Homo sapiens: one gene and its partners. The protein of the gene in region 2 interacts with the protein of the main gene of each other region in a biochemical or structural test. Each region holds a gene or a part of one and is shown on either strand. Other genes may lie near its edges.

The links.
Region 1: the proteins of NFKBIE (region 2) and NFKB2 form a complex in vitro, tested with the Homo sapiens proteins (one study listed by BioGRID).
Region 3: the proteins of NFKBIE (region 2) and HDAC5 form a complex in vitro, tested with the Homo sapiens proteins (one study listed by BioGRID).

The regions. Positions count from the first base shown.
Region 1 is NC_000010.11:102,398,629-102,403,060, forward strand, and holds the end of NFKB2 (nuclear factor NF-kappa-B p100 subunit), read left to right. Parts: intron 1-110; coding exon 111-236; intron 237-659; coding exon 660-869; intron 870-948; coding exon 949-1,090; intron 1,091-1,451; coding exon 1,452-1,566; intron 1,567-1,649; coding exon 1,650-1,863; intron 1,864-2,026; coding exon 2,027-2,196; intron 2,197-2,318; coding exon 2,319-2,421; intron 2,422-2,551; coding exon 2,552-2,703; intron 2,704-2,820; coding exon 2,821-2,890; intron 2,891-3,116; coding exon 3,117-3,289; intron 3,290-3,419; coding exon 3,420-3,531; intron 3,532-3,623; coding exon 3,624-3,748; 3' UTR 3,749-3,896; downstream 3,897-4,432. UniProt on the Homo sapiens protein: NF-kappa-B is a pleiotropic transcription factor present in almost all cell types and is the endpoint of a series of signal transduction events that are initiated by a vast array of stimuli related to many biological processes such as inflammation, immunity, differentiation, cell growth, tumorigenesis and apoptosis.
Region 2 is NC_000006.12:44,262,518-44,269,928, reverse strand, and holds the start of NFKBIE (NF-kappa-B inhibitor epsilon), read left to right. Parts: upstream 1-4,377; 5' UTR 4,378-4,582; coding exon 4,583-4,947; intron 4,948-7,266; coding exon 7,267-7,369; intron 7,370-7,411. UniProt on the Homo sapiens protein: Sequesters NF-kappa-B transcription factor complexes in the cytoplasm, thereby inhibiting their activity. Sequestered complexes include NFKB1-RELA (p50-p65) and NFKB1-REL (p50-c-Rel) complexes.
Region 3 is NC_000017.11:44,085,539-44,092,650, reverse strand, and holds part of HDAC5 (histone deacetylase 5), read left to right. Parts: intron 1-123; coding exon 124-270; intron 271-366; coding exon 367-479; intron 480-819; coding exon 820-951; intron 952-1,158; coding exon 1,159-1,381; intron 1,382-4,052; coding exon 4,053-4,264; intron 4,265-4,954; coding exon 4,955-5,239; intron 5,240-5,913; coding exon 5,914-6,079; intron 6,080-7,112. UniProt on the Homo sapiens protein: Responsible for the deacetylation of lysine residues on the N-terminal part of the core histones (H2A, H2B, H3 and H4).

The DNA of each region.
Region 1 (4,432 bases), on a different chromosome or scaffold from region 2:
GAGGGTCCCAGGAGGTGCTTCCTAGGAGCCGGCCCTGAGGGCTCTTCTGGGAAGGGCCCCTGAGGCATGACACAATAACTGGGCTCAATCTCATTTTCCTCTGCCCCCAGACAAGGAAGAGGTGCAGCGGAAGCGGAGGAAGGCCTTGCCCACCTTCTCCCAGCCCTTCGGGGGTGGCTCCCACATGGGTGGAGGCTCTGGGGGTGCAGCCGGGGGCTACGGAGGAGCTGGAGGAGGTGAGGGGGTACTGATGGAGGGAGGGGTAAAGGTAAGAGAAGCTGTGGAGGAAAAAAATCTGGGGGAGGCCGGGCGTGGTGGCTCACGCCTGTAATCCAGCCCTTTGGGAGGCCAAGGCAGGCAGATTACCTGAGATCAGGAGTTCAAGACCAGCTTGGCCAACAGCGTGAAACCTCGTCTCTACTAAAAATACAAACATTAGCTGGGCATGGTGGCAGGCGCCTGTAATCCCAGCTACTCGGGAGGCTGAGGCAGGAGAATCGCTTGAACCCTGGGAGACAAGAGGTTGCAGTAAGCTGAGATCACACCACTGCACTCCAGGCTGGGCAATAAGAGCGAAACTCCGTCTCAAAAAAAAAAAAAAAAAATCTGGGAGAGTCATGGCTGGTGCCCGCTTCCCACAGCCCTGCCTGTATCCACAGGTGGCAGCCTCGGTTTCTTCCCCTCCTCCCTGGCCTACAGCCCCTACCAGTCCGGCGCGGGCCCCATGGGCTGCTACCCGGGAGGCGGGGGCGGGGCGCAGATGGCCGCCACGGTGCCCAGCAGGGACTCCGGGGAGGAAGCCGCGGAGCCAAGCGCCCCCTCCAGGACCCCCCAGTGCGAGCCGCAGGCCCCGGAGATGCTGCAGCGAGGTATGGACTCCGGGGCACGGGCGGTCGGGGCGCCGGGGCTGAGGACCTAGCCCTGACCCACGCCCTCTGTGGCCCGTAGCTCGAGAGTACAACGCGCGCCTGTTCGGCCTGGCGCAGCGCAGCGCCCGAGCCCTACTCGACTACGGCGTCACCGCGGACGCGCGCGCGCTGCTGGCGGGACAGCGCCACCTGCTGACGGCGCAGGACGAGAACGGAGACACGTAGGCAACAGAGGGCCTGGCGGACGAGGCGCGGGGTGGGGGCAGGAAAGGGACCGGCACGGAGGCGGGCTCTGCAGTTTTCGGACACGCCAGGCTTCAAGTCCGGCCTCGGTGTTCACAAGCTCTGTTCAAGCTGCTTGGTCTCTCCAAACTTCAGTTTGGTCGACCGTGCAAGGGGTACAGTCATAGCACTTACCTACCTCAAAAGGTGCTGCGAAACGTTAAGTGCAGGCACAGCGATGCCCTGGGCCACGTGCTGGGTTCCATGGGCCCCAGCGAGGGAGACTATGAGGGCGGTGGGGCCTTGAAAGCGAAGGATGCTCTGAGTGGCTGGGCCAGACTCTCGCTCCCCAACCCCCAGACCACTGCACCTAGCCATCATCCACGGGCAGACCAGTGTCATTGAGCAGATAGTCTATGTCATCCACCACGCCCAGGACCTCGGCGTTGTCAACCTCACCAACCACCTGCACCAGGTGCGGGGGCGCCTACTGGGGAGGTGGGAGGGGTTGGAAGGCAAGTGGGTCTCGGGCCTGGCTCACCCTGCTTTCATCCCCAGACGCCCCTGCACCTGGCGGTGATCACGGGGCAGACGAGTGTGGTGAGCTTTCTGCTGCGGGTAGGTGCAGACCCAGCTCTGCTGGATCGGCATGGAGACTCAGCCATGCATCTGGCGCTGCGGGCAGGCGCTGGTGCTCCTGAGCTGCTGCGTGCACTGCTTCAGAGTGGAGCTCCTGCTGTGCCCCAGCTGTTGCATATGCCTGACTTTGAGGGTGAGCTCCCCATCTCACCTGACTAAGGGGGCAGGCGGGGACCAGGGAGGGTATCTGGCCAGTGCCCAGAATGGACTATGAGGTGTCGAGATTGAATGGTCAGGGCTGGTCCAGGGGCTGCCTTAAGGGTCACAGCTGCAGGTTGAGCATCCTGCATCCTTAGGACTGTATCCAGTACACCTGGCAGTCCGAGCCCGAAGCCCTGAGTGCCTGGATCTGCTGGTGGACAGTGGGGCTGAAGTGGAGGCCACAGAGCGGCAGGGGGGACGAACAGCCTTGCATCTAGCCACAGAGATGGAGGAGCTGGGGTTGGTCACCCATCTGGTCACCAAGGTGGGACTGAGGATTGTGGAAGGAGTGGGGCCAAGGGTGGTGGAGGGGCCAAAGATGGTGAAGGGGGGGGCTGGCCAAGGGGACCATGCTGTGGTGTCAACTCTCGCTGCTCGCACCCCCAGCTCCGGGCCAACGTGAACGCTCGCACCTTTGCGGGAAACACACCCCTGCACCTGGCAGCTGGACTGGGGTACCCGACCCTCACCCGCCTCCTTCTGAAGGCTGGTCAGTCTCACCCTCAGGGGCACTTGAACAGGGTGGGGGGAAGGGAGAGAGGTGCCTCCCAGTCCCCCGACTTTGCAGTCCTTAATGTAGGCCCCCACCATACCGCCCCATGACGGCCTCCCTCTCCCAGGTGCTGACATCCATGCTGAAAACGAGGAGCCCCTGTGCCCACTGCCTTCACCCCCTACCTCTGATAGCGACTCGGACTCTGAAGGGCCTGAGAAGGACACCCGAAGCAGCTTCCGGGGCCACACGCCTCTTGACCTCACTTGCAGCACCAAGGTGAGGCCAGCCCGGGACTAGAAGTGCTCTGAGTGACGGGGTCCAGAGTATCTGGACTTAAAGACACAGGCTTAAGGACGAGGTGGGAGGTAGTCAGAACTGCGGCTGTCTCCCCAGGTGAAGACCTTGCTGCTAAATGCTGCTCAGAACACCATGGAGCCACCCCTGACCCCGCCCAGCCCAGCAGGTGAGAAGCATCAGGCATCCCCAGCCCGACTCCTCTGACTCCTCACAGAGGTCTCTTCTCCTTCAGGACCTCTGAAGGAGGCCTCCCTTTCTCTACCCTCAGCCCCGTCCATCACCCCTCATGGTCCTGTCTGTCGCTTACCTTGGGAGAAAGGCAGTGTTCAGGTGTCCATGTCCCCACCCAACTCTGGAGGTAAATGACATGTCTGTATGTGTGTCCCCCTAAGGGCCGGGACTGTCACTTGGTGATACAGCTCTGCAGAACCTGGAGCAGCTGCTAGACGGGCCAGAAGCCCAGGGCAGCTGGGCAGAGCTGGCAGAGCGTCTGGGGCTGCGCAGCCTGGTAGACACGTACCGACAGACAACCTCACCCAGTGGCAGCCTCCTGCGCAGCTACGAGGTGGGTTGGCCTGTGCCCTGCCCCCTCCCCAGCCTCCTTTCCCGATCTGAGTCCAGGTGCCTCCTTGGCCCCAGGGCTCCCGAGCACATGCCCTAACCATGACTCAGACCTCATTCCTCTGTCTTCTCAGCTGGCTGGCGGGGACCTGGCAGGTCTACTGGAGGCCCTGTCTGACATGGGCCTAGAGGAGGGAGTGAGGCTGCTGAGGGGTCCAGAAACCCGAGACAAGCTGCCCAGCACAGGTAAAGGGGCCTCCCTGGAAGGTGGATCTGGACCTGGAGGGCCGGAGGCCTGAGGCTTTGACTATCCCATTCCTGTCCCCATTTACCCCCAGCAGAGGTGAAGGAAGACAGTGCGTACGGGAGCCAGTCAGTGGAGCAGGAGGCAGAGAAGCTGGGCCCACCCCCTGAGCCACCAGGAGGGCTCTGCCACGGGCACCCCCAGCCTCAGGTGCACTGACCTGCTGCCTGCCCCCAGCCCCCTTCCCGGACCCCCTGTACAGCGTCCCCACCTATTTCAAATCTTATTTAACACCCCACACCCACCCCTCAGTTGGGACAAATAAAGGATTCTCATGGGAAGGGGAGGACCCCTCCTTCCCAACTTATGGCAGCCCCTGATGTGACTCTTGTCCCTGGAACCAGCTACCCACCCTGCCCACATGCCAGGCATGGTGAGAAGAGAAGGAGGAGGCCCAGCCAGCAAGTCCAGAGCAGTTTTAATGGGGGTGGAGGCTGTACAAAGGGCAAGGCCCACTGAAGCGGGGGAAAGCCAGGCCGTGCTGCCCCCGGCCCAGGTATGGGGCCTTGGCATGGACGCCCTTCCTCCACCTCCAGCAAGAGAAAGAGTAAGCCCTTGGGGAGGAAGGAGGGGAAACCAGCTCAGCCCCAAATCCTGGTCTCTGTCCAAGCCAGGCCCCAGGACAGAGGGGGACTGATGGTGTCAGGGTGGGGGTGGTCTCAGCAGAAAGCAGAAACGGCATCAGGCCTCTCCCACACAAAAAAAAAGCATCAAAAGTTCAGGGGCGCTAGCCCCTCCCGCCCCCGCCCACCCTGTACGAAAAAGTGCAAAACATTATCACAAAAAGGGGCTCTCGGAGGTGCCCCTAGCCTAGGCTCCTGAGGCCCAGGCCCCAGCCCTGCC
Region 2 (7,411 bases):
AAAAGAACAGCTCCAGAGAAGCAGTGAAGTGTGTGCAATACCCTAGGCTGGAGGGCAGGAAACCTGAGTTCTAATTCTGAATTCTGTATCTGTCATTAAGGAGTTATGTGACCTTGGGCAAGTGCCTTCCTGTCTCTGAGCCTTAATTTCTTCATCTGTGCAGTGAGGAAGTTGACTGGACAATTTCTAAGGCTCTGACTTGTAGGTGTAGGAAGCAAGCCAGGCTGAGCCACTGCAGGCAGCCTATCCTTTCAGGCCATCCACCCCACACTGCTTTTCCCTGTATCCCCTGGCACAGCAGGAAGGACCCTGACATTTATTCATTCATTCATTTCTGGATGTCTCCATTCAGTAAACAGGTGTTGGGTACCTATTGTGTGCCCAGTACAGAAATGAAACACAGTTTCCTTCCTGCAAGGAGCACAAAGTCTAATGGGGAGAAAAGAACATGAAAAACAACCATTATGAAGAATATAATAAAAGCCATGCATGATCAATCTTGTGCATACACAGTCACTGTGGAATCCTACTATGTGTCATTAGAGTCTTTGACATACAGTAACTGTTCTCCCCAATTACTCACAGGGAACCAAGGCAGAGGGAGAGTGAATGGCTTACTCAAGGTCACCTGCTAGCACTCACAGAGCTAGTCCTAGAATTCAGATCTTTCCCACTCAAAATCTATGGGGAATATTTGTGGGTAGGAAGTTAGTTTGGGGCAAAGCCTCGATGTCTGATTTTGGGGGATAGGGTACAAACACACTGATCTGCCCAGGATGTTCCTTCCCCTTGTTGGGGACAGGAGAGCCACTGCTCCCACCCCTCTAGTCCCACTCCTGGCCCTGCCTTCATTTTACTACTCTTCCCTTTCCAGGTGAGGTGAAGGTGGCTCTCTGTCCACCTATTGCTTAGAGCTATCCAGCCTGCATGGTCCTCTCCAGGTTGATGGGTCCATTCTCCCTGCCCAGAGGAAGGCGGCTGTCCAGAAGAGGCGGGGGTCTGGTTCACTCCCTTGGCAGAGGCAGAATCTCACTTGGTGGTTCATTCCAGCATCTCCTGCCCATGCTTTTTGGGAAGCTGGCCTCACAGCTAACTCCAGCCCCTCTTGTTCCAGTTTCAACCCCTTCCCCCACAGAGAGCAGAGCCCCTAACCTTGGCCTTTCCAAACCCACAGAGGATCCTTTCGTGCTCCCCATTTAGGCACCATAATCTTCCTCTTGACACCCACCCCCACTGCCTTCCTGTCTCCACTTCAAAGGGCTTTGGAGGAGGGACAGTTTAGCTCTTTTTGGCCAATGCTAGAGCTCCCAAGAGACAAAAGGCTACCCCTGCCTTCTCCATTCACACACAGTACCCTTCCCTGGAAGCTACAAGAAAGGGGGGTGAAGGAGGGGGCGGTGGAAGGAGCCAGCTGACCGGCTGGTCACCATGGAAACCAGGCCTGTTTCCTGAAGATGAGCCTAGCTGGGGTGGGTGGAGGTGGGGAGTGGGGGCACAAAGGGAACCAGAAAACAACAGAGAGAAAGACGAGGGGCCCAGCCTCAGAGAAGACTGGAGCTGAGGAGGCGAGGTCAGGTCCCTAGCCATGCTGTGGCCTAAGTCAAAGTCCCCAGGTCACCCTTTCAGATAACACTGCAATGGTCCCCCTCCCCATTCCTGGAGTGTTGGAAAGGATTCCTGTCAAGAGTGCAAGCTCTGGTAGTGGGGCCAGTGGGTGACTCAATGCTGACCTCATGTGGCCATAAAAGGGACTGCCACACACCTGTTACGGCTCAGAGCCAAACACCTGGCTGGGTTAAGTGGGTTTTTCCTAAAATTCAGCCTCTGTATGAATAAAAAGGAGGTCCTTGCACACTCCTGAGTTCTTACATCCTTGCAGAGGGCTCAGACACTCCCACCCTATGTGGTTTACCTCTTGATAAAGAAAAGAAGGTTCCACTAAAAAATATGTAAAAGTTTTGGATTAGATGAGAAGCCATCTCTGCACTTTCTATTTTAACTTGAGCAAGTCAACTCACCTCTCTGGGCCTCAGTTTCCCAACATTAAAATGGGGATGATAGTGTCAGATTTCGTGTGGATTTTTTTGTTTTTGTTTTTGTTTTTAGACTGAGTCTCACTCTGTTGCCCAGGCTGGAGTGCAGTGGTGTGATCTCAGCTCACTGCAACCTCCACCCTCAAGTGATTCTCCTGCCTCAGCCTCCCAAGTAGCTGGGATTAATTACAGGCATGTGCCACCAGGCCCAGCTACTTTTTGTATTTTTAGTAGAGATGAGGTTTCGCCATGTTGGCCAGGCCAGTCTTGAACTCCTGACCTCAAATGATCCACCCACCTCAGCCTCTCAAAGTTTATAGGCGTGATTACAGGCGTGAGCCACCGCGCTCGGCCAAATTTTGAACCCAGTTGGTCTGGGTCTGGAGTTTATTACTATACTTTTGCTGCAGCCTTTGAGGACCGGAGAGGAACATGTCAGGGGAGGAGACTGAGAACATCTGAAATCATGCTGACTCAAGGGAAGGAGATGCTTCAATTTCCCAGGCCTTTCCCCTCGTGGCTCCTCACTGGGCTTCATGCTCATTACGTCTTTCCCACTCTGGTCCTACATGGGGTTGAAGAACAGTGGGCCATCTTCTCCCCTCAGCCCTCCCCCAACTCTTCTGCCTCCAATCGCCCCCCACAGACTAGGTCCTTCTCCTCTCCCTATCTCTCTTCCCTTCCCATTCTCAGTTCAAATGGAAGCTTCCTTGCCTCTCACCCCACTGAGTAGCTGGCCCCACTGTGTGCCCCCACAACACCCTGTTCTCACTTCTGTCTTATCCCAACCACTCTGAGCTGTAATTGCCAAGGAGCTTTTTTAGGACCATGGGATTTTTTTGTTGGTCATGGGGGGTGGTTATTGGTTATTACTGTGATAGTCAGTTTTGCTTCCAGTAGAAAGAACAACGTCAGACATTACAGGAGACCTTCCATACATGTTTGTCAAGTAGGTGAATGATGGATGAATAAAATGAGGTTGCAGGGGAAGGGCTGTGGGAAAGCTGGCCTCCCCCCTGCAAAACGTTGCTGTCTACACTCATCCACCTTCCTTTCTCCAATGCTGGAGATGGAAAAGCTACATGTTCCCTTGCGGATAACCCTCTAAGGGCATTGCTGGCGTTAGGCTGATAGCACTTGGAATAGTGGGGAGGAATGAGGGAATAAATCATGGAGCATGGGCTTAGGGCTCACTTGTAGTAGGGTGCTCCCACGGCCTTCCTAGGCCCAGGGACAGTGAAAGAGGAAAGATGTTTTGGGACTAAGATTGGGGCTGTGTTGGGGACCTGAGCAGAGTGCAACCCAGCATGTCTGGGGCCTCCCCAACCTGACCCCACTTCCTTGACTGCTGGGGTTGACCAGAAACTGTAACTACCCAAGGCCAGGGTTTCACCCTTTGAGGAAGAAGAAACTCCACAACCACTTTACTTTTTAGACAACAGTTTCCCTGAGAAGACGCTCTTTCCAAAAAAACATTTTCATGCCCAATTCCATGTGATGTGGGACGTTGACACAGGAGACTGTCTTCCAGGACCCAGGAGAACTGCTCCTTTAAAGATAATGGGAGTCCCCTTTCCCTACCCGTACCCCTGGGCACTGATAGGGAAAGATGAGAAAGCAAGAGAAATTGAGATAAATGGGCAGGGGATAGGAAGCAGTGCTTCCCCATCCCATCGCCTACATGCCCTCCCCCAAAGATGCCAGCTTGTACGGACAATTAATAGATATTTCTTTTAAAACAAATGAATGATCCGGGACCGGTGGCTCACAGCCTGTAATCCCAGCACTTTGGTAGTCCGAGGCAGGCAGATCGCTTGAACCCAGGAGTTCGAGACCAGCCTGGGCAACGTAGCGAGACCCCCGTCTCTACTTGTAGTCCCAGCTACTCGAAAGGCTGAGGCAGGAGAATCGCTTGAACCCAGGAGGCGGAGGTTGCAGTGAGCAGAGATCAACCACTGCACTCCAGCCTGGGCAACAGAGCAAGACTTCGTCTCAAAAAAATAAAAAATAAAAATAAAACAAATGAATTAAGAAATAGAAGTGAAAGAAGGAAACAGTACATGCGTGGAACTAATGAATGGAGTGAAGGAGGAAGGGGGAAAGAGTGAATGAATGAATGAATGAATGAGTGAATGAATCAACGAAGGAGTGAGTCAAGGCCCGGGAACCACAGACTCCAAGCCTACGCAGAGCCCGGGAAGGGGGATTCCGGAGGGGCGGGGCCTCTTTCCGGAAGCGCCCGCCGGGGGCGGGGAGGGGGCGGGGCCATCCGCGTGAGGCGACCCTGTTGGTCCGGAGGGGCGGGGCGAGGAGGAGGACCCGCTTGGGCGGTTCGGCTGCCCACAGTAACCGCTGGGTGGACCTGGCCAGCGCTCCGAACCTTGTCCTCGCTGCGCGCCGGCCCCTCGGAGCCCCACAGCCCGGGAAGGAGGCCGCCGCGGGCCGGGCGCCCGCTCTGCCAAGCGGACCCGCAACCCGGAAAGGCGGCGCGGCGGAGCCTGGAGCCGGATCCTGCTCAGACCGGGCCCCGGCCGGCCAGAGCCGCGGGCATGTCGGAGGCGCGGAAGGGGCCGGACGAGGCGGAGGAGAGCCAGTACGACTCTGGCATTGAGTCTCTGCGCTCTCTGCGCTCCCTACCCGAGTCCACCTCGGCTCCAGCCTCCGGGCCCTCGGACGGCAGCCCCCAGCCCTGCACCCATCCTCCGGGACCCGTCAAGGAACCACAGGAGAAGGAAGACGCGGATGGGGAGCGGGCTGATTCCACCTATGGCTCCTCCTCGCTCACCTACACCCTGTCCTTGCTGGGGGGCCCCGAGGCTGAGGACCCGGCCCCACGCCTGCCACTCCCCCACGTGGGGGCGCTGAGCCCTCAGCAGCTGGAAGCACTCACTTACATCTCCGAGGACGGAGACACGTGAGTATGGGGGCTAGGCTGAATCGGGATGCTAACTCTGGGCCTGCCCAAGAGCCGCAACAGGTCGGGCACCCCCACTCCCCCGTGAAGATCCTTCAAGTCCCCATTCGCTCTTCCAAACTCCAGACTTAACTCTCAGCCCACTTTTGAGGTCCAGCTAGGCCATGGAATCATCTCTGTCCTCCCATTTCGGGGTGGGCAGAGCTGGCAGGACCCTTAACCCAGCCAGCATCTTGGAAATCTACCAATAATCCACCCTTAGGAAGAGAAAATTCCCCTGACCAAGTCCAGTTTTTTTGTTTCTTCTTGCTGGGGAAGGGGACATCCTTATTTGCTCAATATCTGGGATTCCCAGTTCCTGACCTCAGAATGCTCTGTCTCAAGGAACAACAGGTGCCAGTTACAGGTTGCCAGTCGGGGCCAGGAAGCTAGGCATGGGGGGTGCCACCAGGGTGTAGGTTTGGGACTGGTCCTCAGGAGGATGGGGTGAGCCAGGCTGGGGCACTCTTGCCCCAGCAGACAGACAGGCGGCTGGCTGCCCCAGCTTACTTCCTCCTCTGCTAAGAAAGGGGAAGTGAGGGCTAGAGTCAGCGTCCCTGACATCCTCTACCTCCAGAGCCCCCAGTCCCACTAACTGTCGTGTCTCACTCCCTCACTTAACCCTTCCTCCTCCAGACCCAGATGGAGTTTGGTGGGAGTGGGCCAGAGGGCAGTTGAAGTAAAAGGCAGTTGTGTGGGATGGGTTGGCCAGTTGAGGATTTAGCCCCCCAGGAAGAAGAAAACATTGACAGAGGAGGGAAAGGTTGGGAACTGGGGATGAGAAATAGAGTTGGGGAGGGCTGGAATCCCTGGTCAAGGGTGCTCATATAAATAGGAGTAGGGGAGGCAGGAGGTGGCTGTCCTAACCTGCTTTTTGGAGATGCAGGGTCCTAATCCTGGGTGGCCATTGATAAAGACAGCTGGTGGACCCAGTGGGTGGGAGAGGAGTGACCCAGTCCTTTCTGTACTCTGCCTGGATCACCAGCCCTCAGGCCCAGAACCCCAAGGTTTTGGGGGCTGCACGCAAGATACCTCTGATGACCTTTGATCCAAGGAGAGGGGACTTTTGACATTGCCGTCTTTTGTTAGCCTCTCAGCCCCAGCCTTTTCCATCTCTAGTTAGAAGCAGGTGTTGTGTCCAGATTGGGTGTGTGTGTGGAGGGGAGAAATGTCCGGGCTCCCCAGCGAGTCCCCAGAGAGCAGGGGGCACTTTCCTCCCTCTGTTGGAGGTGTCTGGGCTGTGGGAGGTATGGAAGTGGGAAGAGGAAGTGGGAGGAGGGGATACTGGGGGAGAGAGGGAGGTGGCTGCAAGAATGTGACCCAGAGAGCAGGCCCTGGCCTAGGGGATTTCCAGAGCAGTTCCTCCCTCCCTCCGTCACTCTCCTGGGCCTCTCCTGCTGCCTGCTGCTAAAGCCTGCCACCCTCCTGCCCAAGCAGCCCCCTCCCCAGCCCAGACGGGCCTTTTAGCCAATCTACCCCCCTCACTAATGCCCCAAGGCAGCTGTCCCGGCCTAGACCCTCCATCACTGGCTTTCGTTTTCCCCACCTGACGTGGGGAAACCCCAAGACTGGAACTTCCCCTCCCAACTGCCCCCATTACCCCTAGATTAAGGTTCTTGGCCCCCTCAACAAATACATTTTCTGCACTACAAAGACCTCCTCTTGGAGGTGCACACAGGAATGGAGGGCCTCTGTTAGGCCCGACCTGGTCTGTGCTATCTGAGAGGTGCCTCTTGACTCCCAGGGAAGGGCAGCAGGACAGGATGCTGCACTGTCTCCTTGCTCCTCTTCCAAGAGTTTCTGTGTCTCTCCCTTGGAATGTGTAACACTGAGTTGCTTGGGGGTACGGGGTGACCCTGCAACTGTCTCCTTCTTTCCTGTGTGCTGGGGTGGTGGGGTGCTTAGCCCTGGAAACCCCCTCTGGACTACTTCGGCAGCTTTCAATTTGGCTTTGAGCTGCAGCTGGCTCGGCAGAGCCCTGAGGGCAAAGAGGAGTGGGTGTGGGCAGGCTGGACAGGAAGGCTGTTGTCCTGTCAGCACCCTGCCCACATGCCCACCCAGCCAAGGCCCTCCTGAAGGCCAGCAGTGGGAACTTGGAGCTCCAACCCTAGGATCCTGGCTTCCCACACCAACCCTCACTTCCTGGCCCACACTCTCACTTCCTGGACCTACCCTATGGGTAGCTAGTTAAAGTTTGATGTGTTCCTTCTAACTCCAAGACCCCAACCCACTCCCTCTGGCCTGGGCCCTTAACTCTAAGCCCCGCCTCTGCTCCCCTAGGCTGGTCCACCTGGCAGTGATTCATGAGGCCCCAGCGGTGCTGCTCTGTTGCCTGGCTTTGCTGCCCCAGGAGGTCCTGGACATTCAAAATAACCTTTACCAGGTTGGTGGCGAGAGAATGTTATGCCCAGATACCTGTTTGTGC
Region 3 (7,112 bases), on a different chromosome or scaffold from region 2:
CCAGAATATGGCTCCTGGGAGGCAGAGGTGGGCTTGTGGCAGTGTCAGCCCTGACCCCAGTGGGCTCAGCTGCAGATGTGTGCTGCTGTGCGCGTATCTGAACCTCGGTTACCTTCTCTCCAGCCTCTGAACCCAACTTGAAAGTGCGTTCAAGGCTAAAACAGAAGGTGGCTGAGCGGAGAAGCAGTCCCCTCCTGCGTCGCAAGGATGGGACTGTTATTAGCACCTTTAAGAAGAGAGCTGTTGAGATCACAGGTGCCGGGCCTGGGGGTAAGGGCTGCTCTCATGTACCTGTTCTGAGGGTCTGGGAATCAGGGGTCGGGGGTAGTTCACAGCAGGCCCAGGTGACAGCCACTTCTCCTATAGCGTCGTCCGTGTGTAACAGCGCACCCGGCTCCGGCCCCAGCTCTCCCAACAGCTCCCACAGCACCATCGCTGAGAATGGCTTTACTGGCTCAGTCCCCAACATCCCCACTGAGGTACAGGCCTGGCTGGGGGCTGGTGGGGCGGGGACAGAGTTGCTCCTTCCCATGGAAGAAAGAGTGCAGCTCCTTCCAGTCTGTCTGCCTGAGTGCCCAGCAGAGACCTCTCTGCCCACATGAATAGGCTGGAGGATCCTTGCTTGGACTTAATTGCATTGAAGGGGAATTTGTCCCACAGGACTATGAAGAGCCCTGATGGCTCAGTCTCCCTCAGTGGGAGCTCAGGGTAGAGGGAACTGGGCACCATTCAGAGACCTTGGCCTTGGCCCCAGGTTGCCCTCCCTTGTTGCCTCCCCTTTGTGCACTCTCATGCCTGTCTCTTCTGACTGCTCCCCAGATGCTCCCTCAGCACCGAGCCCTCCCTCTGGACAGCTCCCCCAACCAGTTCAGCCTCTACACGTCTCCTTCTCTGCCCAACATCTCCCTAGGGCTGCAGGCCACGGTCACTGTCACCAACTCACACCTCACTGTAAGTACAGGGCATATACCCCATCTTCCCTCTGGTGTTGAGGTCACAGGTCCTGCATGCCCCCAGCTGGGGTTTTCCCCTTCCAAGGCCCTAAGGGAGATCTGTTGGCCCTACCCAGAGCTTGGGGGGTAGATAGTGGGTAGATGGGGATGCTAGTCCAAAGTTGGCAGGACTGAGGCTGTATAAGCCCCTCCCTTCACCCCCCAGGCCTCCCCGAAGCTGTCGACACAGCAGGAGGCCGAGAGGCAGGCCCTCCAGTCCCTGCGGCAGGGTGGCACGCTGACCGGCAAGTTCATGAGCACATCCTCTATTCCTGGCTGCCTGCTGGGCGTGGCACTGGAGGGCGACGGGAGCCCCCACGGGCATGCCTCCCTGCTGCAGCATGTGCTGTTGCTGGAGCAGGCCCGGCAGCAGAGCACCCTCATTGCTGGTGAGTGGACAGGTAGCTGTGCAAGGGAGGGGGCTAAGGTCAGGACCAACTGTCAGGGATACTCTCCAACCCTGTCACAGTTCCCCTTAGCAGAATCAACAGCATCAGTGATTTCTTCCACATTCTGGAAACATGGGATACCTACAGGATGCCAGGCACTGTTCTTGACAAAATCTGCTGCCATCTTGGCGTTCACATCCCAGAGCAGTGTTGTTCAGTAGAAACATAACACAATCTACATACGTAATTTCTAGCATCCACATTAAAAAATGTAAAAAGAAGGCCGGGCGCGGTGGATCACGCCTGAAATCCCAGCACTTTGGGAGGCTGAGGCGGGTGGATCACGAGGTCAGGAGATTGAGACCATTCTGGCTAACATGGTGAAACCCCGTCTCTACTAAAAATACAAAAAATTAGCCGGGCGTGGTGGTGGGCACCTGTAGTCCCAGCTACTCAGGAGGCTGAGGCAGGAGAACAGTGTGAACCTGGGAGGCGGAGCTTGCAGTGAGCCGAGATCGTGCCACTGCACTCCAGCCTGGGGCACAGAGCGTGAGACTCCGTCTCAAAAAAATAAAAAAATTAAAAGAAGCAAGTGGAGCCACACATGGTGGCTCAAGCCTGTGAGCCCGGCACTTTGGAGGCCAAGGCAGGTGGATCACTTGAGGTCAGGAGCTTGAGACCAGCCTGGCCAACATGGTGAAATCCCATCTCTACTAAAAATACAAAAATTAGCTGGGCGTGGTGGCGGGCACCTGTAATCCCAGCTACTCGGGAGGCTGAGGCAGGAAAATTGCTTGAACCCAGGAGGCGGAGGTTGCAGTGAGCCGAGATCGCTCCATTGCACCCAAGCCTGGGCAACAGAGCGACACTCTGTCTCAAAAAAAAGAGAAGCAAGTGGAATTAATTTCACCACATATATTTAACTCATTATATCCAGAATATTACAATTTCGGTAATACATATGCAGTTATTCTTTCTATTTTTTAATTTTTGTAGAGACAGGATCTTGCTATGTTACCCAGGCTGGTCTTTTTTTCGAGACTGAGTCTCGCTCTGTTGCCCAAGCTAGAGTGCAGTGGCGTGATCTTGGCTCACTGCAACCTCTGCCTCCCGGGTTCAAGCAATTCTCCTGCCTCAGCCTCCCAAGTAGTTGGGATTATAGGCGCCTGCCACCGCGCCTGGCTAATTTTTGTATTTTTAATAGAGCTGGGGTTTCACCATCTTGGCCAGGCTGGTCTTGAACTCCTGACCTCAGGTGATCCGTTCGCCTCGGCCTCCCAAAGTGCTGGGATTACAGGTGTGAGCCGCCATGCTCATCCTTTTTTTTTTTTTTTTTTTGAGACAGAATCTCACTTTGTTGCCCAGGCTGGAGTGCAGTAAGCAGGATCTCTGCTCACTGCACCCTCCACCTCCTGGGTTCAAGCTTCAAGCGGTTCTTTTGCTTCAGCCTCCTGAGTAGTTAAGACTACAGGCGTGTGCCACCACACCCAGCTAATTTTTTTTTTTTTTTTTTTTTTTTTTTGAGACGAAGTTTCACTCTTGTTGCCCAGGCTGGAGTGCAGTGGCAAGATCTCGGCTCACTGCAACCTCTGCCTCTCGAGTTCAAGTGATTCTCCTGCCTAAGCCTCCCAAGTAGCTGGGATTACAGGCATGTGCCACCATGCCTGGCTTAATTTTTTGTATTTTTATTAGAGAAGAAGTTTCACCACGTTGGCCAGGCTGGTCTTGAACTCCTGACCTCAGATGGTCCACCCGCCTTGGCCTCCCAAAGTGTTGGAATTACAGGCGTGAGCCACTGCGCCTGGCCTAATTTTTGTATTTTTAGTAGAGACGGGGTTTCACCATGTTGGCCAAGTTGGTCTTGAACTCCTGACCTCAAGTGATCCACCTGCCTTGGCCTCCCAAAGCGCTGGGATTACGGGTGTGAGCCACCGCACCCAGCTGCCCAGGTTGGTCTTGAACTCCTGGGCTCAAGCCATCCCCCTGCCTTGGACTCCCAAAGTGCTGGGATTACAGGTGTGAGCCACTGTGCCTGGCCAATATGCAGTTACCAATGAGATATTTTGGTTTTTGTTTCATACTCTTTGAAATCTAGTGTATACTTCACACTTATATCACATTTCAGTTTAGACAGGTTGTGTGCAAGGGCTCAGCAGTCACATGTAACTAGTAGCTATGGGACTAGACAGCACAACTTTAGACAGCCCTTAAGTACCAGGGCTGTCTAAAGAGCCCTGGCACCAGAAGAGGTTCTGCTTGAAAGATACATGATCCTGGCCCTAGGGCTTCCTAGCCTGGCGGGATCCACGGGGAGGATCCATGATCAGGGAGGCCTTGTTGCACTTAGGGAGAAAAGTCATTGTTCGTTCAGAGGGCTCAAGACTAAATGTATACTCAGTTTATTCAGTTAAGGAAATCGAAGGGAAAAGATGGTGAATCCAGGAAGGCTTGCTGGAGGTGGTACCTTAGAGCTGTGAAACTCTTCATTCATGGGGAAGAGGAAGAATGGAGCTCAGGTTTGGGTGGGGGGTGCTTCAGGTCCCCCAGGGTTTTTCCTGAGTATATAGGTGGTGATATGCCAGAGGGGGTTGTGGGGGCAAGATGCAGGGTCGGTGGGAGGGCAGTCAGGTGCCCTGACAATGGTGCTTAGTCATCACCCCCAACTCCGTAGTGCCACTCCACGGGCAGTCCCCACTAGTGACGGGTGAACGTGTGGCCACCAGCATGCGGACGGTAGGCAAGCTCCCGCGGCATCGGCCCCTGAGCCGCACTCAGTCCTCACCGCTGCCGCAGAGTCCCCAGGCCCTGCAGCAGCTGGTCATGCAACAACAGCACCAGCAGTTCCTGGAGAAGCAGAAGCAGCAGCAGCTACAGCTGGGCAAGGTGAGCCTGGAAAGGTGAATGGCCTGGGGCTGTGGTGGGGGCAGGACACAGGAGAGTACCAGGCTGGCAGAAAAGTCCTCCTTTCAGGCCAGACACGGTGGCTCGCGCCTGATTGGGAGGCCGAGGTGGGCAGATCGCCTGAGGTCAGGAGTTCGAGACCAGCCTGGCCAACATGGTGAAACCCCCGTCTCTACTAAAAATACAAAAATTAGCCAGGCGTGGTGGTAGGCACCTATAATAATCCCAGCTACTCGGGAGGCTGAGGCAGGAGAATTGCTTGAACCTGGGAGATGGAGGTTGCACTGAGCCCAGATCGCACCATTGCACTGCAGCCTGGGTGAGAAGAGCGAGACCGTCTCAAAAAAACAAACAAAAATTAGCTGGGCGTGGTGGCGTGCGCCTGTAACCCCAGTCACTGGGGAGGCTGAGGCAGGAGAATCGCTTGAATTTGGAAGGCGGAGGTTGCAGTGAGCCGAGATCGTGCCACTGCATGCCAGGCTGGGCGACAGAGGGAGACTCTGTCTCAAAAAAAAAAAAAGTCCTCTCAGAGGAGCTACCTCACCTTTTTCTAATTCACATAGAAGCTCTACCTGGAAGAAGGGAGGGAGGGAAGGATAGACTGTTCTGGGTTTTAGGCTGCACAGCTGCTCCCCAACTCCCAGCTGATGTGCCCCCATATTCTGTTATCAGATCCTCACCAAGACAGGGGAGCTGCCCAGGCAGCCCACCACCCACCCTGAGGAGACAGAGGAGGAGCTGACGGAGCAGCAGGAGGTCTTGCTGGGGGAGGGAGCCCTGACCATGCCCCGGGAGGGCTCCACAGAGAGTGAGAGCACACAGGAAGACCTGGAGGAGGAGGACGAGGAAGACGATGGGGAGGAGGAGGAGGATTGCATCCAGGTTAAGGACGAGGAGGGCGAGAGTGGTGCTGAGGAGGGGCCCGACTTGGAGGAGCCTGGTGCTGGATACAAAAAAGTGAGCCCCGTCCCTGGTCCCAGTCCTTGGTCACCACCCCTCTGTCCTTCTCCACCCCTGCCTCTGCCCTTGTCTTTCCCTCTCCCCCATCTGCAGTTTCCAGGCTGTGCAGGAGCAGCTTTCTGTAGAGAGCAAAAGGGGAGTGGGAAGGAGGCCGGTGGGGAGAAGGGGGAGCTGTTTGTGTTGATCTCAGAGTTGTGTCTGTCCTAGGCTGCCAGTTCCCTCCCTGTGTCTGTGATACTGGCCTGCCTCTCTGCTTGTGTGTCTGTGTATGCATGCGTCGGTCCCTGTGCGTGCCTGTGCGTGTGTGTACACACACGCCCCCGCTGTTACTACTGTCTGCCTCGCGCCTAGCTGGCACTCCATTCATTGCGGACACAGCCGAGCCCTCCGGGCCTGACTCATCCCGCCCCCACCCCGCCCCCGCCCCCACCCCTCCCAGCCTCTTACCTCAATGCTACTCTTTGATGTGACTCATCACATCTCCCCCATCCCTCCCCATCTCAGAGGAGATGTGTCTCCTGTCCCTGGAGGGAGCAAGTGGGAGGAGGTGGGGGAAGGAGACTTGGAAGAAAAGGGCTGGATTGGGGCCCCACTGGAGGCCCTGACAGGGCCTGCCCTCACCCCTGTCCTGGCTGAGTCTGACCCAGGCCCCCTCCCATTCTCCCCTCCAGCTGTTCTCAGATGCCCAGCCGCTGCAGCCTTTGCAGGTGTACCAGGCGCCCCTCAGCCTGGCCACTGTGCCCCACCAGGCCCTGGGCCGTACCCAGTCCTCCCCTGCTGCCCCTGGGGGCATGAAGAGCCCCCCAGACCAGCCCGTCAAGCACCTCTTCACCACAGGTGAGCCCCCACCAACTGTTAGGTCCTTCTGCCAGGCACCAGAGGGCCTGTGTGTGGTGTCTGCCCCATGGCAGGGGGAAGAGGCTGCTGGGGCCCCTTAGGCACCCTGAAAGGAGGGGACACAGGCCTTCGTTCTCTCCCTGTACCCCAGAGCTGTTCATGGTAGCGGCAGGGCCTTCTGCCTCAGCCGGGAGAGTGGGTAGCGTCTTTCTCACCCCGCTGAAGGAAGGACTGCCCCACAGCCTGAAGTGCTGGGTAGAGAGAGCCTGCTGTCCCTGTTGGGCCCTGACCTTCTACCTTCCCTTCCTTCTCCCTGTGAGGTCTGGGATGAGACCAGAGTCCTCTTCCCTATGAAGCTGCCACAGGCTGGGCTCTGGGGGGACACAGACGTGCCTGAGGGTGGCCCTGTATCACCCGTGGAGAGTAAGACACGGGTTTGGCAGGAGGGGGAAAGCAGGAGGTGCCGTGAGAAGGGTGCAGCTGAGGAGGCACAGCTGGCAGAGATGAGACTCATGCGAGTGTCCAGGGCAGCCTTGCTGGGGCTTGAGGAGCAGGGAAGCTTCTGATAGGCAATAATGGAGCAAAGGAATTTCAGGAGGAGTCAAGAGGGGGCAAAGGCTGGAGAGGAAAGGCCAGGTGCAGTGGCTCACACCTGTAATCCCAGCATTTTGGGAGGCCAAGGTGGGAGGATCACTTGAGCCCAGGAGTTTGAGACCAACGTGAGCAACATAGTGAGACCCCGTCTCTTTAAAATAAAAAATAAAAAAATAGGTTGGGTGCAGTGGCTCACGCCTGTAATCCCAGCACTTTAGGAGGCTGAGGTGGGTGGATTACCTGAGGTCAGGAGTTCGAGACCAGCCTGGCCAACATGGTAAAACCCCGTCTCTACTAAAAATACAAAAATTAGCCAGGCGTGGTGGCACATGCCTGTAATCCCAGCTACTCGGGAGGCTGAGGCAGGAGAATTGCTTGAGCCCAGGAGGCAGAGGTTGCAGTGAGCCGAGATCGTGCCACTGGACCTGGCCGACAGAGC